2 separate regions of the Homo sapiens genome follow, and region 2 is reported to be linked to region 1. The links are microRNA targets in miRTarBase. Many come from high-throughput screens and were not tested one by one. Region 1 holds a microRNA gene; the other region holds the end of a gene's coding sequence.
The links. The annotated mature microRNA hsa-miR-5585-3p reads CUGAAUAGCUGGGACUACAGGU and lies in region 1 at 2,332-2,353, opposite strand. An mRNA with a match to its seed (bases 2 to 7 or 8) in the 3' UTR can be bound and repressed. Matches are read on the target gene's strand: a 7mer-m8 pairs with bases 2 to 8, a 7mer-A1 pairs with bases 2 to 7 and ends in A, and an 8mer does both.

Region 1 (4,402 bases):
CAAGATGGCGAAACCCTTGTCTCTACAAAAAATACAAAAAGTAGCCAGACTACATGCCTATAGTTGCAGCTATTTGGGAGGTGGAGGTGGGAAGATCACCTGATCCTAGCGGGGTTCAAGGCTGCAATGAGCTGAGATCACACTACTGCACTCCAGCCTGGGTGACAGAATGAGACCCTGTCTAAAAAAAAAAAAAAAAAAAAAAAATTCCCAGCTCTGCCACTTACTAGCTCTGTGATTTATGGCAAGTTATTTAACCTCTATGAGCCTCAGTTTCCTTAACTTGCCCTAAATTACATAGCTTGTATTGATCCCACTCTCAGCAAGGTATTACACTAGTTTTCTCATAAATACTGTCTTTTAGTCCTACAACAACCCTTAGCATAGTTTCTGGCCCAGAATAGATGATCAATAGAATTTTGACTAGAAAAGGAAGAGGCCAGTGATTCTATGGGGACAGGAAAAAAGACTAAAATGGCATTCCCGAAATACTCTTCAGGGTATCTTGTGGTAATGAGGGGGCGGGGGCACCTATGTGAACATACAAAGGTCTCCAGCTTAAACTTAAAGAATCTCGCTGGCTTTGTCTCTAAGAAGGACTGCAGATAGGTCCTATGATCAATTAAATTATTTGGTGACAGACTGCTCTGACAGGTTAGAAGTTAGAAGCAGCTTCATATGCATGATAGCAGATTCCCTCCCACCTCCTCCACCCTACATGTGAGTCTATCAAAGTAGAAAATAAATCTGTATCAGAAAAAAAAAAAAAAAAAATGGGAGTGAGGGTCATCAGTGCACAAATGATTCTGACAAATTTAGAAAGCAGATGGAGACATGATGACAGACGAAGAAGCAGTCATGGTCTAGAGCATCGCTTTCCAACAGAAAGATGAGTCACATAATTTTTATTTTTATTTTTTTTGAGACGGAGTCTGGCTCTGTCACCCAGGCTGGAGGGCAGTGGCGAGACCTTGGCTCACTGCAAGCTCCGCCTCCCAGGTTCACACCATTCTCCTGCCTCAGCCTCCCGAGTAGCTGGGACTACAGGCGCCCGCCACTATACCCGACTAATTTTTTTGTATTTTTGGTAGAGACGGGGTTTCACCATGTTAGCCAAGATTGTCTCAATCTCCTGATCTCGTGATCGCCCACTTCGGCCGCCCAAAGTGCTGGGATTACAGGCATGAGCCACCGTGCCTGGCTTTTTTTTTTGGAGATGGAGTCTGGCTCTGTCACCCAGGCTGGAGTACAGTGGCGAGATCTCAGCTAACTGCAAGCTCCACCTCCCAGGTTCACGCCATTCTTCTGCCTCAGCCTCCTGAGTAGCCGGGACTACAGGCGCCCGCCACCAGAGTCACATAATTTAGCCACATTAAAAAACAGAAGAGATGGGCCAGGTGTGGTGGCTCATGCCTGTAATCCCAGCACTTAGGGAGGCTGAGGCGGATGGATCACGAGGTCAGGAGATTGAGACGATTCTGGCTAACACAGTAAAACCCGTCTCTACTAAAAATACAAAAAATTAGCCGGGCGTGGTGGCAGGCGCCTGTAGTCCCAGCTACTCGGGAGGCTGAGGCAGGAGAATGGTGTGAACCTGGGTGGCGGAGCTTGCAGTGAGCAGAGATTGTGCCACTGCACTCCAGCCTGGGTGACAGACTCCGTCTCAAAAAAAAAAGAAAAAAAAAAAGAGAGATGAAATTATTATTATTATTATTTTGAGACAGTTTCACTCTTGTCGCCCAGGTTGGAGTGCAGTGGCATGATCTCGGCTCACTGCAACCTCTGCCTCCCAGGTTCAAGCGATTCTCCTGCCTCAGCCTCCCTAGTAGCTGGGATTACAAGCATGCACCACCACGCCTGGCTAATTTTGTGTTTTTAGTAGAGACGGGGTTTTTCCATGTTGGTCAGGCTGGTCTCGAACTCCTGACCTCAGGTGATCCGCTCGCTTTGGCCTCCCAAAGTGCTGGGATTACAGGTGTGAGCCACCGCACCCGGCCTTTTTTTTTTTTTTTTTTTTTTGTGAGACGGAGTCTCACTCTGTGCCCCAGACTGGAGTACAGTCGTGCATTCTCGGCTCACTGCAACCTCCCCCTCCCGGGTTCAAGAGATTCTCCTGCATCAGCCTCCTGAAATTAATTTTAAGATTCTATTTTACTTAACCCAATACATGCAAATACTATCACTTCAACATATAATGAATATTTTGAGATGTTTTACTTTCTTTTTTTTAATTAAGACAGGGTCTTGCTGTGTTGCGCAGGCTGCTGGAGGGCAGTGGCATAATCATGGCTCACTGCAGCCTCTACCTCCTAGGCTCAGGTGCTGGCACACACCTGTAGTCCCAGCTATTCAGGAGCAATCCTCTGACCTCTCGAGTAGCTGGTACTTCAGGTGCGTGCCACCATGCCCAACTAATTTTTATATTTTCTGTAGAGACAGGGTTCTGCCATGTTGCCCAGACTGGTCTCAAGCTCCTGGGCCTGATCCACCCTGCCTTGGCCTCCCAAAGTGTTGGGATTACAGGTGTGAGCCACTGTGCCCAGCCTCAGTTTCTCTCTCTTTTTTTTTTTTTGAGACAGGGCCTGGCTCTGTTTCCCAGGCTAGAGTGCAGTGGTGCAATCTCAGTTTATTGCAACCTCCACCTCCCAGGCTCAAGCCATCCTCCCACCTCAGCCTCCAAAGTAGCTGGGACTACAGGTGCAGGCTACCATGCCCAGCTAATTTTTGTATTTTTGGTAGAGATGGCATTTTGCCAAGTTGCCCAGGCTGGTCTCAAACTCCTGAGCTCAAGCCATCCGCCTGCCTCAGTCTCTCAAAGTGCTGGGATTACAGGCATGGGCCACCATGCCCAGCCTACTTTCTTTTTTGTGTGTGTACTAAGGGTTCAGAATCGGTGTGTATTTTACACTTAGAGCACATCTCAACTCAGACTACCCTATTTCATGTGCTCAATAACCAGGGGGGCTAGTAGCTACTCAACTGGACGGTACAAGTCTAGAATATGGCATGAGCGAACTGGACTGGAGGTGGGAGCTTATCTACCCAGAGTGACCCAAGAGAGACTCTGCCTTGAAGTGGGCACATATGATAGAAGATGAAGTGGGGAGCAGGTATGAATAAATGGGATTAAACAATGACCTATGTTTATTTATAAGAGTCAGTCCCTTTATTCCCCTACTCACCTCATACAACACACCCTGAAGGATTCTTTTCTAAAGAAATTGAGTAAACTGAGAATTGAGGTCTCTAATGGCGATATCTTAGAGTAACACCCCCACCACTCCCTTTCTGGCCTACGGAGGCTCAAAGCCTAACAACCAGCACTTCACTCACTCATCCTCAAAGCAAAGCCTGCCAGTCAGTGTGCCCTGCCCATGTACTTAAAGTTTCCAGTCAAAGCTCTTACCCCCTTAAACAATGACAGAGAGAAAGAAACTGCACTCCTGCTACTCAGTCCTTCATTTTTACATATAAAGAGACAAGCAAACAAGCCAACTATACTTGGAAAACAAGCAGCATGAAACAGAAAAATTGACCCCAGTGAAAAGACAAAATTGAGGAAAATAAGGGAATTTTTTTTTTTTTTTTGAGACAGAGTCTCGCTCTGTTGCCCAGGCTGGAGTGCAGTGGCGCAATCTCAGCTCACTGCAACCTCCACCTCCCGGGTTCAAGCAATTCTCCTGCCTCAGTCTCCCGAGTAGCTGAGATTACAGGCATGCACCACCACACCCAGCTAATTTTTGTATTTTTAGTAGAGACAGGGTTTCACCATGTTGGCCAGGCTGGTCTTGAACTCCTGACCTTGTGATCCACCCACCTTGGCCTCCCAAAGTGCAGGGATTACTGGCGTGAGCCACCACGCCCAGCCAAATAAGAGATTTTTAAAACAAGAATAGTATGCTATGAGAAAAGAACAATCAGCAAACATAGAGGCCTTAGAGATGAAAAATATGATTGCTGAAAAAATCTCAGTAAAAAAGCTAGAAGATAAAGTTGAGGAAATCTCTCCAAAGGCAATGCACATACAAAGAGAGAGAGAGAGAGAGATTAAATATTAGAGAAATATAGGAGAAAAAGATGACCAATCTATGAGGTCTACCATCTGATGAACAGAAATCCAGAGATAATAGAAAAAATTAAAAGGAAGATATTATCAAAGAAATATCAAAGGAAAATTTCCCCAAGCTAAAGAAGTACTCAAATCTCCAGGTTAAAAAAGTCCTAGAGTCCTGAAAGGATGAATGACAAACGTCCCACAACAGACACATCCTTTGAAATTTCAAGTAATCAAAAGATAAACAGAATATTCCTCAATGCTTTCAGAAAGGAAAATACAAGTCATCTATAAAAGAATTGGAATCAAACTCAAACTGGCACCAGACTTCTCACTAGCAACACTGGA
Region 2 (4,402 bases), not on the chromosome of region 1:
TTTAGAAAAAGACAAGATACAGAAGATGCACGTTACCTTAGAGCTGAAATGCATCCATGAATATGGAAAAGCAAGGAGAAAGGGAAAGAGAGCCAGAGAGGAAATAGAATAATAATAAGCGAGTAATGGGTACTGATCTGAGAAACATGCCAGGAGTTTGGTTACGATAAATAAGAAAAGCAGAAGTAGATTTGAAACATTCGTTTCCCTTTATTAGCTCAGTGAGGCTGATGTGTACTGCACATTTAAAAAAAATCACAGGAATTTTCATACAATGAATAAAACCACAACAATACATGTAGAATTGGCAGGTGGAAAAAAGGCCCGGCAAGGGCTCAACTAATCGCTCACTTTCCCTCTTCAGCATAGTTCAACCAACAGTATTACACTTTCACCTACAAATCTTAAAGTAGCTCCATCAAATCAGCAGTTCACATTATTGAAAATGTCTGTCACATAGGTACAAATTTAGAATCATCACATTATAGTACATGGCTATTCTAGGTCATCTATAGATCAGGTCTTAGACTACAGTGATTGAAGTTCTCATTACAGCCATCAAGAAAGGACACATAATCATTACCTACTGGAAGCTCACATCTAAAGGCATGAAAAGGTTTCCTTTTATCAACTGACCCAAACATCATACCCCAATAGTGCAAAGTTCCCTCTCTGCTGCTTTGAATGTTGACAGCCCAACTGTTGTTCTCGGAGTCGTTTAGCAAAAAATTGATTTTGTTGCACTGGAAGAATTATTCTGCTACATCTCTTTTAAAAAAGAAAAAAATCCACATTACTAAAGCACCAGTTCGGTTACCAAAATTGTAGATGTGGTACTTACCACGGCATGAAGGCAATGGCCCACGGTCTTCTAAAAATCCTACAGATCTATGCTGAAATTTGCCTCCAGTGATGATGGGGTGCACGTGTTCATTTGAAATATTCTCTCCCAAAAAAATAAAAATAAAAATGAGAGGAGCACAGCTTACATTTTGATGGGCTACCCACAGTGTCTGCAGAAGATACAAAAGCTCCACTAATTCTAGATGCAATTTGAAGTCCATTGAGGAAAACTATCTTCATGGTAACAATATTTGTCAGGCTGGGGGTAGGGGGGATAAATTAATCCTCAATATGATATCTGTAGTGCTGTCTTTTGATAAGTAAGAAAAGAAACCAAGTATTCCACTCATGTCAACAATCCAGGGCAAAAAGGAGAATGTATTTAAAATTGGTTCACAAAAATTTAAAGGCAAAATAGAGAACACATGTGGTCCTTGAACACATAATAGGATTTACTAAATCTCGATTTCTTAAAAATAATTTATTGCTCTTAATAGTCTTTTTATTATTATTCTACAACAGAAGATACTCAAAATTCAGAAAGAAAGACTGTAAACTTTAGTTTGGCGTTCACACAGTTAAAATACCTGCATTTAACCTACAGAACAACAAGAATTAGGCGGATTAAAGATGTGTTACTGTTGTAACGCAGAACCTGTGAACAAGTTCTTTCATTTCATAGTATTTTTATTGCTTTCTATCTACTTAGAAATAAGAAGCCAAAAAATCAAGCAAGCATCCGACAGGACAAACAGTGGATTCACTCAGAACACAATATGCTGGTGATAAATGAATGCAGCTATCAAAATTAGCTGCATTGGCCTGGGGGTGAAATCCATCTTACAAGATCGTGTTGGGCGAGAGAAAGGAAAAGAACAATTGAGTAGTAGGTGTATCATGTCTTCCAGAAAAGTCATGTCAGCCAAACAGTAATCGAATCTCAATTTAGAAACTTGAATACACACTCCAAATGTTACTGAATTCCATTCCAGGGACTCCACACTCAGATGAAATCCTGATGATCAAAATGGAGGTTTTTCTGAAGTTTTTATTAAATTTAGCAGAAGCAATGTCATCAAGAACAACACCATGGTCACGTCAGAGGCCATGCTAGTGCAAGTAGAAACACTGCTTCTGCAAAAGCTGAATTTCCCAAATGAAGCACTTACACTCCAACCTGACAATTGTCATGCATCCTAGGTAGAAAATTTCCACTGGCTTTATTATTTTCATCATCTCATAATTTATAATAAATAGGCTATCTGCAACTGATAAATATGTCTCTTTAGTAAACAAAGGAATGAAATATCAGTATTTATACAGGATGCATAACTGTAAAAAATACAGATAAATACCATCGTCATACTCTGCCAAGGGAAAGAAATACTGGCTTCAAAGATAGTCTTCAGACACACATTAATTATTGTAAAAATCATACTATAATTATTACCTCAGCATTTTGTATCAAATTAAAATCACAAAAATTAAAACAAAACAGCATTTTAAAAAGATTTTTGACTTCTAGTTTCAAAACTACTGTTGATAGAGAAAATAAAAACATTTCTTAATGGTTACCCATTGAGAGACTTTACATAAAATCATGATATCTTCTAGAAAAATTTTAGATGAGAAAATTTCATTCCCCTAACAAATCCAGTGTATAAAACTTCAAAGAAAAACAAGCGACAAGAAAATGTGGAAAAATATCGCAGAAGTGGTTAATACCTTTAGGGGACTAGGATATTTCTTGACAAGATGCTTAGATTGAAGCTCACCTAAGGGATGGATGTGCGGAAAGCATCATTTTGCTCTTGTTGCACTCAACAGACACACACACTGTCTTTTTGTTTTTACAATCAAATATATATAAGCAGTAAGTTCAGCTTCTAAATATGTTAGTGTACAATAATTGTTTCACCTCATAATTACATTTGAATATTCTTGATTAAGAAAAATTTAGCAGTTTTGAAAAGAAGGCTGCATTTACAGTGCATAGCTGTAACAAAAAAGAACATTGTTGTATAGTATATACATAAAATAAAAATACTCCATTTAACATCTGTAAATACTTAACTACATCAGAGAATGTAGCAATTACACTATCTGAACACATCTCAGAGAGTTCTACCCAACTCTCATTAGTAATGTAACCCGGTGTCCGCTCCTCAGAAAGAACCGCTGAACAAGCTGCACGCTTGACCATTGACAAGGCTTTTGAAATTTGCAGTGGAAGATCAACATTTTGGACATTTACATGGGTGTCAGGATTAAGGATGAACTACAGAAACTTCAAAATGTTAGGAAACTTTAGCATTCTGGTGCCCGCAGTATCCTCTCCCACCCAGATTCCATGGCAAAAGGAAAAAGAAAAAAAAAAGAGAGAGAGAGAGAGAGAGAGAGAGACAGGATATTAGTTCTATGGAACCTGTGGTTTCTTCAGGATTGTCATATAATCATTACGTTATGAGAGAAAGCTTGCTTCAAGTTGATTCTGCACTTTCTTAAAAAAACAGAGTACAAAGGCTGATGCCCAGACATCAGCGGCTGTCATTTTAGGGTGGTTTGTGGTTGGTTGGTTGGTTGGTTGGTTGTTAGTTTTCTTTCCTTTTTAATTTATATATATATATATATATATATATATATATATATATATTTCCTTTTGAATAGAATACGAACATTTTGAAGTTCTAGGTTTTAAGCGTGTCTTCATGGAACTGCTGCCATTTGAAATGGTTTGCCCTTGCGCATTCTGGTCAGGTGCCCCCAGTCCTCACATGTACCCACACATACTTCCCCTAAACCAAGCACACACACCACACACATACATACACACACACATACATGCACACACGCACACTCCATCACCAAGAGACTCCAGGAAAAGCAAAGCTGACACCCATGAATAAACATGTGCTTACTGGATATCATTCTGTCTCTTGCCTCTTCAGCAGCTGTGTTCATGTAAACCATTGTTGTTATTGTTGTTGTTGTTCTTGTTGTATTGTTGTTGTTTTGTTTTGTTTTTGTACAGAGAGTGTAAAGTAGGAGAAATTCCTAAGTATGACTTGCAATAGTCTTTAGGGAAGGACGCGCTGTCCCATGAGGTATTCGCCATCCCTCTGTCATCCTCAGCTAGGGAACATGTTACCTGCGCAAGCTTCTCTGAGCTTCTTTCAGTAAACTATCAAAATCCAGAGAGTCATACTTGCTCTTGGTGGAAGCAGGGTCAAAGTCATCTGAGTTTGAATCTGAAAAAAAACACAAGCCAGTTTAGATACACACTTTGCTGATGGCCATTAACTCAATCATTCCAATTCAAGATTACTGGATTCGATAACAACTCTTCCAATCAATATACTTTAGAAAACAATAGTCAGATTTTATTGGATATATATGGATATATAGGAAGAGGATGGGGAGTAGTGAGCTTTCAAAAACACGCACCTGTTGACTCGTTTAGGCTTAAACACCCTGGGAGTTAGGCAGAGCACACGTTAATATATCTCTGGCAGATAACCACCCTCCCCTTCCCCCGACACGTCAAATGACTTGCCCATGG

Region 2: miRTarBase lists PPARGC1A as a target of hsa-miR-5585-3p. Seed matches in the 3' UTR shown: 8mer at 3,503-3,510, 7mer-A1 at 2,775-2,781 and 7mer-A1 at 1,797-1,803.

Annotation. Positions count from the first base shown.
Region 1 is chr1:32,084,937-32,089,338 of GRCh38, reverse strand. MIR5585 (microRNA 5585) reads right to left here and starts at 2,390; the gene lies at 2,332-2,390. All of the region lies in intron 5 of TMEM39B (transmembrane protein 39B), which reads right to left.
Region 2 is chr4:23,791,835-23,796,236 of GRCh38, forward strand. It overlaps PPARGC1A (PPARG coactivator 1 alpha), which reads right to left. Exons shown (of 13, transcript NM_013261.5): 13 at 187-4,091. The coding sequence ends at 3,988. Among named protein-coding and RNA genes, the nearest start is that of PPARGC1A-AS1, 25 kb to the left of the region's middle.